Homo sapiens: one gene and its partner. The protein of the gene in region 2 purifies or fractionates together with the protein of the main gene of each other region. This does not show direct contact. Each region holds a gene or a part of one and is shown on either strand. Other genes may lie near its edges.

Region 1 (3,141 bases), on a different chromosome or scaffold from region 2:
TATGTATCCTTTTTGTAAATGCTCCAATTGAGTTTACCAAAAAGTATGGCACACACTGCCCTGGAGATTCTCACAGATTTCTAGTATCTTCAGTTTTGCTTTAAATTCAAGGAGTGGTAAAAGGGCATGGGCTCCAGGAGGTTGACAGTACCAATTGAATCTGTTCACTCAAAAGCACTTAATAAAGCACTACTAAGCAGTGGACCACAAAAGAATATGTGATCTTGTTCTTTTCCCATAAGGAACTTGCTATATAATTATAAAAACCATACTTTATTATCTTATTACCTGGAATTTGTTTAGAGCAGTGGTTGTCAGAATGTGGTCCCTAACCCCAGTGGCATCAGCATCAAGTTGTTTGAACTGTAAACCATCAGGCCTTACCCCAGACCTACTGAATCAGAAGCTCTGGGAGTGGGGCCCAACTATCTGTAGTTTATAAATCCTCTAGGTCAGGGATGTCCAATCTTCTGACTTCCCTGGGCCACCCTGAAGAAGAATTGTCTTGGGCTGCACATAAAATACACTAATGATAGCTAATGAGCTAAAAAAAAAATCTCATAATGTTTTAGTTTACAAATTTGTGTTGCACCACACTCAAAGCCGTCCTGGGTCACGTGCAGCTCACAGGTTGGACAAACTGGCTCTAGGTAATTCTGATGCTCGCTCAAGTTTGGGAACTACTGGCCAAGTAAATCTCCTCCTTCAGCAGTCTCTCTACCATAACATCAGAATTATTTCCAGTACTTTGCTTCCCTCCCAGTCCATTAATCTTTCCCCTTCCCACCCCATATCCAATGAATCAGATTCACAAAACAACCTACACATTTCAAAAAGAACATAAAACTTTATTAAGAACATCTTATACTGTCATCAGATACAGCCAAAGAAGAACGGGTAAACAAACAGGGAAAGTTCATCTTCCCATGTGCTATTGCCACCTCAGAACAGACTCCTGTGTGGATGGCTGGAACAACAGTTGGCAACAAATGCTCTGTATAAATAATTCATTAAGTAACACAATGTTTCCTTTCTATACAGAGAAGAACTGGGCTTACATTTTAAGTTTTGATATAGTGCAACAACTATGAAACAAGACTACATCCTTAGGAGCTATTTCTTAATAGAATACAAAGCAGTTTAGTAGCTTTATGTTATTTCAGATAATGTAATTTTTTTAATGAAAAATTCAGAAAGGACATTCTAACTTTCCCAATTAGTTAATTTGTACTGTTGAGTTTTTTCTCTCTAAAGATTTCTCAGAATCAGTTCAGTAACTATACTTTAAAAAGATGAGTTGCTCATCTACAGTGATAACTGACAACTTAGTTTTGTGATTTTGCAAATCAAGATGCCTGGGTCATCCCCACTTTTGCTGATTCTGAAAGATTTCTTATAGAAAAACCCTGATTCAGAGTGCATGTGATAGGAGATACCAAAATAGCTGCATCTGGACAGGGAGGTTGGCTATTGAGCACAGCTGATTCTCAGATTCCTGGTTCCCCTCTATGGTCCTTTTACTTACTGTAGTGATGGAAGGAGAGAAGGAGCGCCCGAGAATCTGTTCAGATTGTGACTCCAGACAGCTCTCTGCACTGTATGTGGAGAAAAGAGTGATGGCATCCATTCAAACCATAGCAGCCCTACGGCACCATGCTTTTCTCTTGAGGGGTCAGACCAAACTGCACTCAAAGATGCATGATCTGCCTCAGGTGCACAGTGGAGAAAACGCTCATGATTTACAATTTGGTATTATAATACCCCCAACTAATCCCATTTCTTGAGAAAATGAAGTCTTCCTTTTAGGAAGAATGTTTGCTGCTAAGGCTTACCATGTTAATTATCACACGGCTGAAAAGATGACTTCTAAATCAGACTGTATTGTCTGTGTTCAGTTAATACGTTAACCAACAACTGAAGTTTGTGGAGGATTGGTCGAGGGGTGGGATTCAGGTTTTTGAGTACTATCACTTATCACAAATCTCATCAAGCTCTTTAAAAAAATAATGCATTTTTATCATAAATATTTAGAGCAGATACTGGCATTAAAATCAGTATCTAAGTCAGAAGTCTGTCTGAAATGGTGAAAATATTTCAACAAACTTCTAAAAGATTTCAAATCTTCCCAGGAGTACATAGTTTATAAATTAGTTTTAAATGGAAAAAAATATATATTTTGAATGGATAAATCACCACTTTAGCAGATCATAAATAAGGTCAAGATATTGAAAATAAGTTAACATACAAGTTTTTGCTTTCACATTAATAATAAAAACTAACTTACTTAGTATACTTTCATAACATGTACAACCAGGTTTCATAATTGTGCATCTGTCACCTCCCCACTTGGCTGAATCTTTTTCTTCCATTTCCTACACCTAGGGACAGAGGTACACAGACATCCCAGGGTGTGAGTGTGGCTGCTGCATGCTGTGTCCTAGTTAGAGCAGTGTTACAAATGCTGGTCAGGATCTATGATTAGTAACCTGTGAACCACGTTACAAGTGAAGGACATTCATGGTTAGGTGGATTCAGTTCCCAGGTGAGCTATCAGCGGTAGTGTTAGGGAACCTAACTACTATTCTTTCTGTGAGAAAATGCACCCCAAGTCCCAAAAGTTGACTAAAAACTTTGGAATAAGCCATGTATTATTAGTAGTGCATGGATGAGCACTACTTATATGTGTCTCTGTTTTGGAGAGAGGTCAAATTGTTAAAAGAACTATTTGCAGAACTACTTGGCTATTAAAAATAAATGTCTGCCTTCTTCATATGCAATTCATTGTAACTATAATTTCTAATACTGAGAAAGAAACAATGAAGCCATTCAGACTAGAGAGACATAATTGGCTTGTGGGATTTTCAAGATGTTTTATTGACTATCTAATTTGAATCTACTTACAAAGAGAAGAAAAATGTCTAGTATGTAAAGCAATGAATGAAAATAAATGTTTATCCTAAGTCATTATTGAGTACAAATCCACAGCTTAACAATGTGTTTTTAACAGCAGGAGAGCATGCAACTGCTCTAACACACAGGGTCAGAAATAAAAGGTAAAAGTACATTTGTTTTGTAACTGTAAATATACAAATATAAAATTTACCATATCTACCCTGTAGTGTGGCACTGCTTAACTGCCAA
Region 2 (3,072 bases):
CCTGCTCGGCCAGATTTTGTATATTGAATTTAATTTCATGACTTCCATCATTAGTATTATTTCATTTACCAAGGTTTAGATGTGGAATGGATAGGAATTAAAAACCCCTCCTTCACCCTGGAGTTTGAGAAGCCCGGTGTAGAATTCAAATAACTAAGGGGTTTGATTCCATTCCGTGTAGTCACTTTCTAACCTGAAATCCAAAGAGGAATTGAAGTTGGGCAGAGAAATCAGAGAAGGAACAGGAGGCATTGAGAAGTTTCTGTGCCACATTTGAGAATGAAGGTGATCCTGTATTCTGGATCCCCACCAATGACCTGATGAAGTGTTATTCCATTCTACAGAAGAGGAAGCACAGTGAGGCAGCCTGGCTTGCCTTAATGCACTCTGATTGTTAGGGACTCAGATTTCCATTTAGAGCCCAGGAGTCTGCAACCCTAGTTCGATCCCCCACCCCAGTCTCTGATTTCTGAAGCACATAAGGGAAACTGAAGTCAGAATCAGGTCTAAAGTGTTTAATTATCACTCACATATTTCACAGGAAAAGGAATGTAGCAAATGGGTCAAGGTGGTATAAAAAAAAAATCCAGGTTTGTACATGTCTCTCTGTTTACATCTGGGAGAAAGGTTGTCCTGGCATCAGTCGCAGCAGCTGCACTTCTCTGACGCCCCTTTGCAAACACAGCCCTGGGCACACTTGCTACAGCCCACGGGGCAGCAGGAGCAGCAGCCTGGGGAAGAAGAGGAGCATGAGAGGTCACAGCCAACTTGCCCAGGGACCTCCCTCCCCAACAGAGGCCCCCAACAGAGCCTCCAGCCACAAAGGACCCTCAGTTCAGGAGGGTATGGCTTTGTCAGGAGACAACTGGGAAATATCTGGGGTGGGTCTTCCTATGAGAAAGCTGCCCAGGCGCCCTGCACAGGGCAGAAGACTAGAAAGGCAGTGACAACCTACGGGGACAAAGGAAGGCCAGTTCCCCAGAAGCATGCACTCAGGGCCAGCCTTGGGTTCCATCCCAACCTTAGCCACAGCCCCAGACCATGGAGATGGCCTCACACTCACTCTTCTTGCAGGAGGTGCATTTGCACTCTTTGCACTTGCAGGAACCAGCGCAGGTGCAGGAGACACCTGCGAGAAAGAGAAAAAAAAGCCAGTGAGCGGCGAGTGACCTGCAGGAGGTACAGCAGTGAGTTAATGAGTCTCCATTGCCCCCTCCTCTGTGCGGGGCCAGCCCTCAGAGCTCCTTTCCCACTCAGAGCAGAGGAAGAGAAGCCCCATGTCCTCTCCCTTCATGCTGGGAAGGCCAAGCAGCCTCCTGTTTGCACTCCAAAGGAAAGTCCCAGGCTCCAGGCACAGCCTGGGAAGACGGCGACTTCGACTTTCTGTCCTGAACCCCGAAGAGGCAATGTCCCCTGCCTCCTATCTAATCCTGCTGCTCAAAGCCTGGTCAGAGCACTGGGGCTCAGCCAACAGCCCTGGGACAAACCGCATGACGTGGAGCAGGACAGCCTTGAGCCTCAGTACCCTCAACGCTGACACAGAGGCACAGAGAGGAAGGAAATGCTCTCAGGATCTTGGCCAAGAGGAAAGCACTGGACTAAGTCAAGGAGTCCCCTACAGTTGAGATCTCAAAATACGACCTTCTCAAACCCAGGAACACTCTCTATGGTGTCTGGGAATCGAGCATCCCCAGGCACGGAACCCGGCGTTCCTTACCAGCGGCGCAGGAGCAGTTGGGGTCCATTGCAAGCCGAGGAGAGACTGGACTTTCCAAGAGAGAAGCGAAGAAGCAGTGGGGCAGGTGGAAGGCGTGGTGGACCCCAACAGCCGGCCGCTGCTTTGATAGTCAGGGGAGGGGGCCGGGCGCAGAGACCCCGCCCCGTCTTTGCACCCGCCCCGCCTGTCAGCGCTGCGGGAGGTCCTGGGTGGGCTGTGTGCAGCAGAAGGGCCGGGCGCAAGGTCCCCTGAGCGCAGCTCGCTGCACACCGCGGACCGTCCCTTTGGAGTCCGCTCAAGCGGGAGGCGCTTTGTGCCTGGGTGAGCGGCTTCCCTGCCCTCCTGCCCGCCCTTCCCAGTTTCGCCAAGATTGCCTGCTACACCCGCCCCTTGGGGTTCCGGGTACCTGGAGATCCTGGCCTTCGCCCCGCCCCCCGGCCCCGCCCCGGTCCTTCGTCAACAGCTAAGCCTTTCCTGGAGTCCCAGTGCAACCCCAGTCTCTTGCGCCACTGTCTAGATTGGCGGGAGCAGGGAGCCTAGCAAGGGAGTAGTGTGCAAAGGACAGGCCGAGGATGTGACCTTCGGATCTCTAGCATTGCCTGTCCCTGTCACCCCACCTCAGTCCTTTGGCCATGTTTCTCCTGCGCACAGCAACACGGAAGACACAGGGCTCTGCCCCCCTCTCTTCCATTCTTCACTCTTGAGAGGCTGAATGGGCACATTTGTCTGGGTCCTCCTTTGCATAAATCTCTCCGGGGTCTCCCCACAGCCTCGACGGGCACCCCACTATAGGATGGCAGTTTGGAAAATATGGGATGCCCCCAGAAGCGAGATCACTGAAGGCGGAGTTTGCGGTGAGCCGAGATCGCACCATTTTTGCACTCCATCCTGGGCAACAAGAGTGAAACTCCCTCTCAAAAAAAAAAAAAAAAAAAAAAAAAAAAAAAAAAGAAAAGAAAAGAAAGAAAAGAAAAAGAAAAAGAAAAACTTAACATAAGAAGTAAGAAAGACAAGTGGTTAATTCCCTTCAATATTACTAGCAATTGCTTAAGGTTGAGTCTGTGCCAGTCTCCTTTTAATCATTTTCATTGTTTGAACCTTTACAACAATTGTAAAGGGAAATACTAGGCATGAACCCATATTAATAAATGGACACCTACAACAAAGAAAGTTCAAGCAACGTGCTCATCGTCACAGAGCTAAAAAGCTGTGCACTGATTTGAATCCAGCCAGCCTCTCAGGAGAAATTCTCTGAAATAAGGCCCAGCTATGTCTTCTCTATTGCTGGACTTCCCTATGGCTTGAAATCTTTTAAATAATAACAAGTCAGGCCGGGCACCGTGGCTCACGCCTGT

What was found.
Region 1: the proteins of MT1F (region 2) and RPRD1A purify together in Homo sapiens (affinity purification with mass spectrometry; one large-scale study listed by BioGRID and IntAct). This does not show direct contact.

What each region holds. Positions count from the first base shown.
Region 1 is NC_000018.10:35,989,001-35,992,141, forward strand, and holds the end of RPRD1A (regulation of nuclear pre-mRNA domain-containing protein 1A), read right to left. Parts: 3' UTR 824-3,141; downstream 1-823. UniProt on the Homo sapiens protein: Interacts with phosphorylated C-terminal heptapeptide repeat domain (CTD) of the largest RNA polymerase II subunit POLR2A, and participates in dephosphorylation of the CTD by RPAP2.
Region 2 is NC_000016.10:56,656,732-56,659,803, reverse strand, and holds MT1F (metallothionein-1F), read right to left. Parts: upstream 1,846-3,072; 5' UTR 1,746-1,845; coding exon 1,718-1,745; intron 1,130-1,717; coding exon 1,064-1,129; coding exon of another isoform or gene 1,023-1,063; exon of another isoform or gene 1,022-1,022; intron 732-1,021; coding exon 640-731; 3' UTR 501-639; downstream 1-500. UniProt on the Homo sapiens protein: Metallothioneins have a high content of cysteine residues that bind various heavy metals; these proteins are transcriptionally regulated by both heavy metals and glucocorticoids.